Regions from separate parts of the Homo sapiens genome. Here region 2 is linked to region 1. Evidence: fine-mapped expression QTL. Tissue or cell type: whole blood. Region 1 holds a variant in brackets; the other region holds the start of a gene. All regions are shown on one strand. Distances are from middle to middle.

Region 1 (5,140 bases):
TCTTTCTTGACTTTTTAAAATTGAAACAAAACTCCCTAAAACATGAAATCTGAAGCGTTCAACTCCACGAGTTTTTACAAAGCAAACTGCACCGCGTCACATAGCTGATCCGTGTGTAGCTTGTCCTCTGGACGCGGGGCCACCCCCACACCCCGAGGTGACCCCAGGCGTAACCTACCCGTCCCCGGCCTTGGTGCCTGCAGATAGTTTTGCTTGTTTCGAGCTTTTGTCTTGGGATCCGGGGCCATCCACCCTGGGTGTGGCCGCTCAGTCGGGCCCCTGTGTGGGGCTTTCCCGTGGTGTGGGGTGCGGTTCTGCCGTGTCCGTCCCCACTGCGGGGCTGCTCTGCTGGCTGAATTCTCCACGTCTTATGTATCCACCCTCATCTTGCGAGGCACCGGGGTCCCGGCTTTTGGCCACAGACATCCGAGCGCCTTCTGTTGCCCGTGGCGCATCTTTCATGTGGGCACACCCAGGAGTGGAGTTTCCGGGAAACAGACGTTTCCCTCGCGTGGCCGCACCAGGTCGCACTCTGCACTGTGTTTCTGCCTCCAGTTATGTGGGGTTTTCTGCACCCACAGCCACTCTGGCGCCAGCTGGGTGTCCTGTGTTTCCATTCAGCTCTGACATCAATTACCTGACGTTAGCGCAGACCCTGCAGATGAAGGGCTCATTCCCACAAGCCTGCCCCTACTTGAGAGCCAGCTGCAAGTGCCAGGTGACAACCTGGATTCTGACCAACTGGCTGTGAATCGGGGGTGTCCGTGACCCCTTCCTGAGGCTCGGGTGGGCTAGAATAGCTCCCGGAACTCAGGAAAACACTTTGCTTAGTGTACCCGTTTATTAGAAAGGACAGCCACACGGAGGAGCTGCACGGGAGGCTGAGGTATGGGGGGTGCAGAGCTTCCGTGCCCTCTCCAGGCACGCCACCCTCCAGCACCTTGGTATATTCACCAACTCGGACACTCTCCAGACCATGTCATTGAGGGCTTTTTGTGGAGGCTTCGTGACAGGCACGGTTGATTCAACAGCCAGCCACTGCTGATTACCTCAGTCTCTCCTGTCTCCTCTCTGGACCGTGGGCTGTGGGACGGAAAGTTCCAACCCGCTAGGCATTCCTTGGTCCTGCTGAAGACCAGCCGCATCCTGGAGCTGTCCCGGCTCCCGGCTCCCCGTCATCTCATTAGCATGCAAAAAGACACTCTTACCGCACTCCAGGATTCCTAGGGTCAGAGGGGCTGCGCGCTGGGAAACTGAGACAAAGGCTGAATCTGTGTTGATGGCACAGTCACTCTGGGTCGTGTGGGAATTCCCGATGCACCTCCTTCCAGCACATGGACTGTCAGAGCCCTGCGTTGTCGCCAGCACAGCAGATCTGAAAGGCACTAGGCTGTGGCCTCGCGACGGCTGAGGTGAGCTGCTTCTCCGAGGCTCCCGGGTTATTGGGGACCCTCCTTTTAAAGGTGCCTGTTCCAGTCTTTTGCCCCATTTCAAAATTGGGCTGTCAAAGAACAATGTCATTGGGGGGTCCGTCTTTTTTGTTGGTTCCTGGGGGCTGTGTGTGTTTTAGAGACAAGTGCTTTGATTTTTTGTGTTGCAAACAGCTTCTGTCACTCCGCGGCTCGCCTTCCACTCCATGGATGGTGTCTTCTGATGAACAGAAAGTAAAAGCTTACTTTATAATTAGGGCTTTTGCGTCCTGGCTGTGTGTGGGGCCTCTTTCTGGACTGATCTGTCCCCTTTGTTTTTTGCCCCCATGTCGTACTGTTCTGATTTCTTCTGCTTTATAATCACCATTGGTAACTTGTGTTATGAGTCTCCAATTTGGGGTTTTTAGTTTTCAAGGTTATCTTGGTTATTGGCTTTTTACATTTCCATACACATGGGCTTGTTAATAAGCCATTTACAGTTGGCTTATTTGCTTTCAAAATCTCCATAAGACATTTGGATTGCATTTGGATTTCTTGATCAGTATGGGAGATTAGCATCTTTACAATACTGAGGTTTCCAATCCGTGAACATATCTTTAGGCCTTTGATTGGGGTTTTTTTGGCAGGGGAGTTGCGGGGGGCAGACAGGACCTCACTCTTGCCCAGGCTGGAGTGCAGTGGCATGATCATGGCTCACTGCAGCCTTGACCTCCTGGGCTCAAGCAATCCTCCCACCTCAGCCTCCCAAGTAGCTGGGACTACAGGTGTGCACCACCATGCCCAGCTATTTTGGCATTTTTTTGTAGAGACAGGGTCTCCCTATGTTGCCCAGGCTGGTCTTGAACTCCTGGGCTCAAGTGGTCCTTCTGCCTCAGCCTCCTAAGGTGCTGGGATTACAGATGCAAGCCACTGCACCCGGCCTTAAATTCTTTCAATAATATTTTGTAGTCTTGTGTGTAGCGGTCATCCACATTTTTTGTTCAAATGATTCCCTGGTATTTCAGTGCTTATGCTGTTTTAAGCCGTATTACTTTTACAGTTTTTTTTTTTTTATCTTTTTGTTTATAGCAATGTGTAAAGAAGTGTGATTAACTCATTTGTCTTGGCCT[C/T]TCCTGGTCCCCGTAGTTTGTCTGTGGTTGCTCCGGAACCTCTCTGTGCGCTGCCATTTTGTCAGTGACCGGCTGTTTGTTTCTGCCTTTCCTTCAGATGTTGCCTTGTTACCCTGGCACTGTTGATCCTTCCAAAACAGTATGGGACAGAAGTGGTGACAGCCACATCCTCTCGTGCCTGATTTCAGGGAAAAGCTTTAAGAATTCCACCATTAAGGGTGCTGTTTGCGGAAATACTGTTTTTCCTTCGTAAATCCCCACCAACAAATTAAAGAGGTTCTATTTTATTCCTAGTTGAAAGTTGTTAATATGAATGGTGCTGAATTTTTTCAGATGCTTTTTTTCCTTCATCTATTGATGTGACAGAACTTTTCTCCTTTATTCTGTTCATACGATGAATTCTATGGATTGGCTCTTAATGGTAGACCGATGGCATTCCTGTAGTGTGCCTCGTTTGGTTGTGATGAGTTCGCCTTTTTATATTTTGCTTGATTCAGTTTGCTATTATTTTGTTTGTTGTTTTTGCAACTGTATTTATGAGAGAGATTAGCCTATTATTTCTTTTTTTTTTTTTTTTGGAGTCTCACTCTGTCACCCAGGCTGGAGTGGAGTTCAGTGGCCCGATCTGGGCGCACTGCAACCTCCGCCTCCCTGGTTCAAGCGATTCTCCTGCCTGAGCCTCCTGAGTAGTTGGGATTACAGGTGTGTGCCACCACGCCTGGTTAATTTTTGTATTTTTAGTAGAGACAGGGTTTCACCATGTTGGCCAAGCTGGTCTTGAACCCCTGACCTTAGGTGATCCGCCCGCCTTGGCCTCCCAAAGTGCTGGGATTACAGGTGTGAGCCACCATGCCTGGCCATATCTTCCTTTTGATTGATGCTTTTATCATCATGAAATGTTTTTGTTTTTTTTTTTTTGAGACAGAGTGTCGCTCTGTCCCCCAGGCTGGAGTGCAGTGGCACCATCTCCACTCACTGCAAGCTCTGCCTCCTGGGTTCACGCCATTCTCCTGCCTCAGCCTCCTGAGTAGCTGGGACTACAGGTGCCTGCCACCGCGCCTAGCTAATTTTTTATATTTTTAGTAGAGACGAGGTTTCACCGTGTTAGCCAGGATGGTCTCGATCTCCTGACCTCCTGATCCGCCTGCTTCGGCCTCCCAAAGTGCTGGGATTACAGGCGTGAGCCACTGTGCCCGGCCAAATGTTGCTCTTTAGATGAAAATATTATTGTCATTAACATCTGATCTGTATGATGTTAGTGTGACCACACCAGCTCTGTGTGTGTGTGTGTGTGTGTGTGTGTGTGTGTGTGTGTGTGAGATGAGGGGAGGGAGGGAAGGGGACTTAGTGTTTATATGCTCTATTTTTTCATCCTTTCACTTTCTTTTCTGTATATTTTGGAAATGACTCTTAAAAGCAGAAGTTAGTTATTTTTAATCCAGTCTGAAAATGGCTGTGTTTTAAATGAAAGATTTAGTCCGTTTACATTTAATGTCATTCTGATGTGTTACATTGTAGCTTTGTCATCTTGCTATGGGTCCTTATTTGTCCGGTCTGTTCTTTGTTTTGTCCCTCTTTCTTGCCTTCTTTTGGTTTAATCAGATGTTTTTATTCCACTTTCCTCCCTTTATTATTATAGCTTTGTTAAGTAATACTTCTCTTAATGTTATTTTAATGGCTACCTTAGAAATTATGAGTCACATCCTTGGAACGTAGCATAAACTACTTTTACCATTTTCTTCAAAACCTTATAACAGTTTAATTCTTATTTTTTCCTTTTTTTTTTTTTTTTTTGAGATGGAGTGTCACTCTTGTTGCCCAGGCTAGAGTGCAAGGGCGCGATTTTGGCTCACTGCAACCTCCACCTCCTGGGTTCAAGTGATTCTGCTGCCTCAGCCTCCTGAGTAGCTGGGATTACAGGTGCCCACCACCATGCCCAACTATTTTTTGTATTTTTAGTAGAGGCAGGGTTTCACCATATTGACCAGGCTGGTATCGAATTCCTGGCCTCAAGTGATCTGTCTGCCTTGGCCTCCCAAAGTGCTGGGTTTACAGGCATGAGCCACTGTGCCTGGCCTAATTATTCTTCTTTCCTTATTGTTAGTTTGTGCTATTATTTTATCAGTCTTTGTGCTGTTATTATCATGCCTGTAAATTCTACGTGTATTTCAGACCCACAAACCAAGTGTTGTCTTAGACAGTGGTCCTTCAGATTTACCCCCAGGTTACCCTTCTAGTCTTCCTGCAGGACGGCGCTTACATGGAGACCAGCTTCCTTCTGCCTGAAGTAGTCCCTTTAGTATTCCTTTCAGCACAGACTTGTAATTAATTCTTTTTATTTCTTTTCTTTTCTTTTTTTTTTTTTTGAGATGGATTTTTGCTCTTGTTGCCCAGGCTGGAGTGCAGTGGTGTGATTTTGGCTCACTGCAGCCTCCACCTCCCAGGTTCAAGCGATTCTCCTGGCTCAGCCTCCTGAGGAGCTAGGATTGCAGGTGTGCGCCACCACGCCCAGTTGTTTTTTGTTTGTGTGGGAAATGTCTTTGGCATTCTTTCTGGAGGGTGTTCTCCACTCTGTGTGGAGTTCTAGGCAGGTAGGGGGTT
Region 2 (5,140 bases), 67 kb after region 1:
CTGCTGCTTATTAAACCCTTGTAAAGCAGCACAGGACTAAGGTAGGGAAAGTACTTTAGGAAATGCCCCTTTTTCACATTTTATCGGCAGGTGTTTCATACAAAGAATACAAGTAACTGATGAATGAAGGGGGCATCTTGTGTCCCCACAATCCTGCTGTGCGCACACCACAGGTGAGCCGTTCTGCCTAAGGGAACAGCCCCGGCCCCTCCCTCCGGCTCCTCCCCAGCACCGTCTCCTCCACCCAGTGGCCTGGCCGTGGATGCTGCCTGTGGCCCAGCTTTGAGACACCGCCCTGACACGTGTCCAGCCTTACGTGGAAGGATTTGTCTGTTTTGTGGCATCCTAGTAGATGCCACGTTAGTAGATGCCATGTTAGTAGAATGGATGTGGGCATTTCTTTGTAAGTTCCCAAAAGCCTATGAGGGTTTTTTCCACGATTCCGTTCCCAGTTTGGCTTTTGTTGTTGTTGTGGCTGTTCTTGGCCCCCCTGGGCCCTGCAGTGGAGTGGGGGGCTGCACCTGGGAGCCTCGAGCTGAGGCCCAGCCCCTCCTGCCCTGCATTTTCCTGCCAAGCAGCACCTGAGACTCTGAAGCCGATGCCTATACAGGCAGAAACCTGCCAATTCCAGCTTGAACGACTGGAGGGTCCTGAGGATGGGGGTCCCTGGGGTGCCATCATGGGCAGGGTGCATCTGTTTGGGTATGCTGCCCCCCAGCTGGCGGGGCACCGGGGACAGGCACAGCCACACTGGGGGCATTTCTGGTCTTGGAAGCCTTCTTGGCTCTTCCGGAGGGAAGGCGGCTGCTGGGTGCCCTGTGATCCACCCGCGAGCTGGGCTGTTCGGCTTGGTCTGCAGGGGCTGGGGGGCTGCATTTCTTTTCACCAGCTGCACCCACCCGGCCCCATCCTGGCTGGCACCGAAGGGAGCAGCGCGCCGTGACATCCTCCCCTCAAGCCTGGTGAATGGTGGTTCCATGAGGCTGGAGTCAGTGGGTGCCTGTTGTGACAGCTGGATTTCAGTGTTGGTACAGGAGCACACACCTAAGGGGCGGGCCAGTGAATGAGTGTGCGAGGGTGGGCTAGAGAACGAGCAAGGGAATGAGAGAGAGTGGGTTAGAGAGTGAGTGAGCCAGTGAATGAGTGAGTGAGCAGGAGTGGGTTAGAGAGCGAGGGAGTGAGTGAATGAGTGGGCTAAAGAGGGCCGGGCGCGGTGGCTCACGCCTGTAATCCCAGCACTTTGGGAGGCCGAGGAGGGCAGATGATCTGAGGTCAGCAGTTCGGGAGCAGCCTGGTCAACATGGTGAAACCCTGCCTCTACTAAAAATACAAAAACAAAATTAGCCAGGCGTGGTGGCGGGCGCCTGTACTCCCAGCTACTCAGAAGGCTGAGGCGGGAGAATGGTGTGAACCTGGGAGGTGGAGCTTGCAGTGAGCCGAGATCGTGCCACTGCACTTCAGCCTGGGAGACAGAGCGAGTCTCAAAACAAAAACAAAAAACAAAATTAGCTGGGCATGGTGGTGCATGCCTGTAGTCCCGGCTACTCAGGAGACTGAGGCAGGAGAATAGCTTGAATCGGAGTCAGAGGTTGCAGTGAGCCGAGATCGCGCCACTGCACTCCAGCCTGGGCAACAGAGCAAGACTCCATCTCAAAAAAAAAGTGGGCTAGAGAGTGAGTGAGTGAATGAGTGAATGGGAGTGGGTTAGCGAGGGAGTGAGAGGGTGAATGGGAGTGGGTTAGAGAGGGAGTGAGAGGGTGAATGGGAGTGGGTTAGAGAGTGAGGGAGTAAGCGAGTGAATGTCTCTTGGTGCTGCTGTAACAGAATACCTGAGCGAGCCTGGGTAATTTCTAGGGAGCAGAGTTCTTTCCCAGCTGTGGAGGTTGGGAGTCCAGGGTCATGGTGCCAGCAGGCTTGGTGTCTGGTGAGGCCTGATCTCTGCTTCCAAGATGGCGCCCAAACACTGCATTCCCCGGAGGAGAGAGGGGAGGAAGGCCACGTGTCCACATGGCAGAAGGCAGAGAGGAATCCATGCCCAAGCTGTCTTGACAGCTACAGGAGTTTGTCTGTGAGGGCGGGGCTCCCATCAGGTTCCACCTCTCTACACTGTTGCTCTGGGGAATGAGTTTCTCACTGTGAATCTGGGGGGCACATTCAGACCCTATTGTGGGTGAGTGGGAGAGCATGGCTGTGTCACTGGGACAAGTGGCCATGAGTCGGGGGAACTGAGGGGTTTTCAGTGTCCTCACCCGTATGTGTTGTGGCACCTGTGCCAGGCACCAGCGTTCTGCCCTCCCCGGCACAGGCGCATCACCGAGTCCCAGGCCCGCCTGCTGGGCATTTTCCTGCCAAGCAGCACCTGAGATTCTGAAGTCGATGCCTGGATAGGCAGAAATGGGCCGGCAGGAGGCTCCTGACAGACGGGTCTGTGCAGTGCCAGCGCAGGCAGGGTGCTGTGGCCAGGTCCTACACCTTTATGGTCAGGGTTCCAAGACGTCATGAGACGGCTTGTTCAGCCAGTTAGTTGTCGGTGCCCCTCTGAACAAGGACCCCCCCAAGGAAGGGGGTGGCCTCGCATGGGTGGCTGGGGATCCTGCTCCGTCCCACATGTGGCCAGCATGGCCGACACTGGCATTTCTCAGCTCGACAACAATTTTTCTGACTTTGGATATTTTCTAGATTTTGTGTTGTAAGAAAAAACACTTGGCAGTCAAATACTAGGCAGATTGAAATGCTGACTTTCTCACTGTTTCATTTTGTGATTGAAGTGCGTGCAAAACACTCAATCTGGTAGGGATGATGCCCGCGCGGAGCTGACCCTTCTCCTATTGTTTTTCCAAGCTGGAGAAGAAGCAGGCGCTCCCTCCATTCCAGCCACAGATCACAGACGACTACGGTCTGGACAACTTTGACACACAGTTCACCAGCGAGCCCGTGCAGCTGACCCCAGACGATGAGTGAGTCCCACTGGGTGCGGGTCCCTGGAGCACCCCTCGGGCAGCCCCATGGCAGGCCGGCACCTTGGGCAGCTGGTGACCCAGCCTGCCCTTGAGTCCCACCCGCCTGGTGTCATCTCTCCAGTGGGCGTTGGGGGAGGATTCTTATGCGAACGTGACTCCGCTTCCCCCAAGGGAATGAACACACGGTCACCCCCCTCCCCCCTGCCACCTTTGCCCACAGGGATGCCATAAAGAGGATCGACCAGTCAGAGTTCGAAGGCTTTGAGTATATCAACCCATTATTGCTGTCCACCGAGGAGTCGGTGTGAGGCCGCGTGCGTCTCTGTCGTGGACACGCGTGATTGACCCTTTAACTGTATCCTTAACCACCGCATATGCATGCCAGGCTGGGCACGGCTCCGAGGGCGGCCAGGGACAGACGCTTGCGCCGAGACCGCAGAGGGAAGCGTCAGCGGGCGCTGCTGGGAGCAGAACAGTCCCTCACACCTGGGCCCGGGCAGGCCAGCTTCGTGCTGGAGGAACTTGCTGCTGTGCCTGCGTCGCGGCGGATCCGCGGGGACCCTGCCGAGGGGGCTGTCATGCGGTTTCCAAGGTGCACATTTTCCACGGAAACAGAACTCGATGCACTGACCTGCTCCGCCAGGAAAGTGAGCGTGTAGCGTCCTGAGGAATAAAATGTTCCGATGATGTGGAAGCTCCTCTGATGCCTTTTTTCCGTGAGTGGCGCCTGCCCCACATCTCAGACGCAACCCACACGTAGGGGGGCAGCTTAGGAGCCAGCGGGACACAGGTGGGGGCGGGAGTTGAAGTACCTGTGGGGACACACCGCAATCAAGAATTGTTTCCTAAAAACCCCGGTAAGTTCCTGTTGTTCTTCCTGCAGAGTGTGTCCCAGCCGCTGTGGTCTAGGGTGAAGTGACACCTTAAGCAGATGGCAGCTGGGCCAGCCAGCTCACTGGACCGATGGGGGAAATTGGATCATAGAGATTCTAAAACGTGGCCCACCAAAGCACAGTAGACCAAAAAAGAGAAAAAACTGAACACTAAATCTGCACAAATCATTTCTGACCACACTAAGCAGTGCCTGCACGATGCCTCGTGCGACGCATTTGATTTTTGGAAGATATTCTTATCTGTCACACAGCACTGAGAGTTAGGGAAAACTAAAAGATGTGCATGTGACGGACCCCAGCCTTAAAGTTGAACGTGATGACCCTACAAACACCCAGAAACACAGGCACTCTTCCCAGCGGCGCGGACCTCCTGCTCCCGGGAACACACCCGCGCTCTCCGTCCACCCACCCCTCAGGTGAAGGCACAGCTGTCCAGAGCTGAGGCTTCCTAGAGGCAGGGCTGCCAGCTGCCAGGTGTCAGGTGTGGCAGAGCCGTCTTCTGAGCTCCCTGGGAGAGGGGGTCGCGCCACCTCATGCCTCTGAGTGAGGCCTGGTGCACAGGTGTGGAAATTGCCACGCAGCCCTCTTGGCCAGGCGCAGAGACCCCAGGCCTCCATGACTCAGGGGCCGCTCCACCCCATTGTGCGGCTGGTGGCTTGGGGAAGAGAGACGTAAAACCCCAAGTTAGGAGGTCTGTGCCGCGCCTTGCCTTGCCTCAAGGTCATCCCCAGCAGGTGAGCGTGGCCCACCCTACACACTCAGGTTTCTCAGGGTGCCACTCCGTGCCTGGCGCTCAGCACGACATGGTGGATTCACACCCAAGCCCCAGGTGCCAGGACAAGAATGCCAGCGCTGGGCATACTGCCGGCCCATTCCCCCCGGCCCGAGACCCTGGACACCCGCCCCCCCCCGGCCAGCTCAGGCTTCTAGGTGGAATGTGGAGACGGGTTTCAGCCACACTCCCAACCTTAGCTGTTGAGACTCAACTCCAAAGACGGAAAGTTAGAAACCCCAGGGCAGAGTCCAGGAGCCGACCTGGGTCTCACACAGGTGTCCCAGACCAGCGTGGGGATGCCCAGGTGGCCAGGCCCAGCCTGCGGCCGCTGAAGTTACACCTGCCGGGTGAGTAGGGCTGCCGGGACCCCACCTTGAGTGGGAGACCCCCAGTGTATCCCAGAAGTGGTTAACAAGCAAACTGCTTTCCATGAGCCTCCTTGATTTGTTAAATATTGAAGGCACTTACCTAAATACTGCCGTGTTGCCAGTAGCGTGCCGGTTACCAGTTTG

What was found. PIP is the estimated chance that this variant, and not a neighbour inherited with it, causes the effect.
Region 2: PRKCZ-AS1 starts here. The variant in region 1 is fine-mapped to the expression of PRKCZ-AS1 in whole blood (TOPMed, PIP 0.93).

What each region holds. Positions count from the first base shown.
Region 1 is chr1:2,114,899-2,120,038 of GRCh38, forward strand. All of the region lies in intron 4 of PRKCZ (protein kinase C zeta), which reads left to right. Among named protein-coding and RNA genes, the nearest start is that of PRKCZ-AS1, 66 kb to the right of the region's middle. The variant C/T (reference allele first, on the strand shown) is at 2,540.
Region 2 is chr1:2,181,742-2,186,881 of GRCh38, forward strand. PRKCZ-AS1 (PRKCZ antisense RNA 1) reads right to left here and starts at 2,134. Exons shown (of 2, transcript NR_146290.1): 1 at 1,830-2,134; 2 at 53-1,000. It overlaps PRKCZ (protein kinase C zeta), which reads left to right. Exons shown (of 18, transcript NM_002744.6): 17 at 2,842-2,957; 18 at 3,181-3,654. The coding sequence ends at 3,268. It also overlaps a transcript of FAAP20 not described here.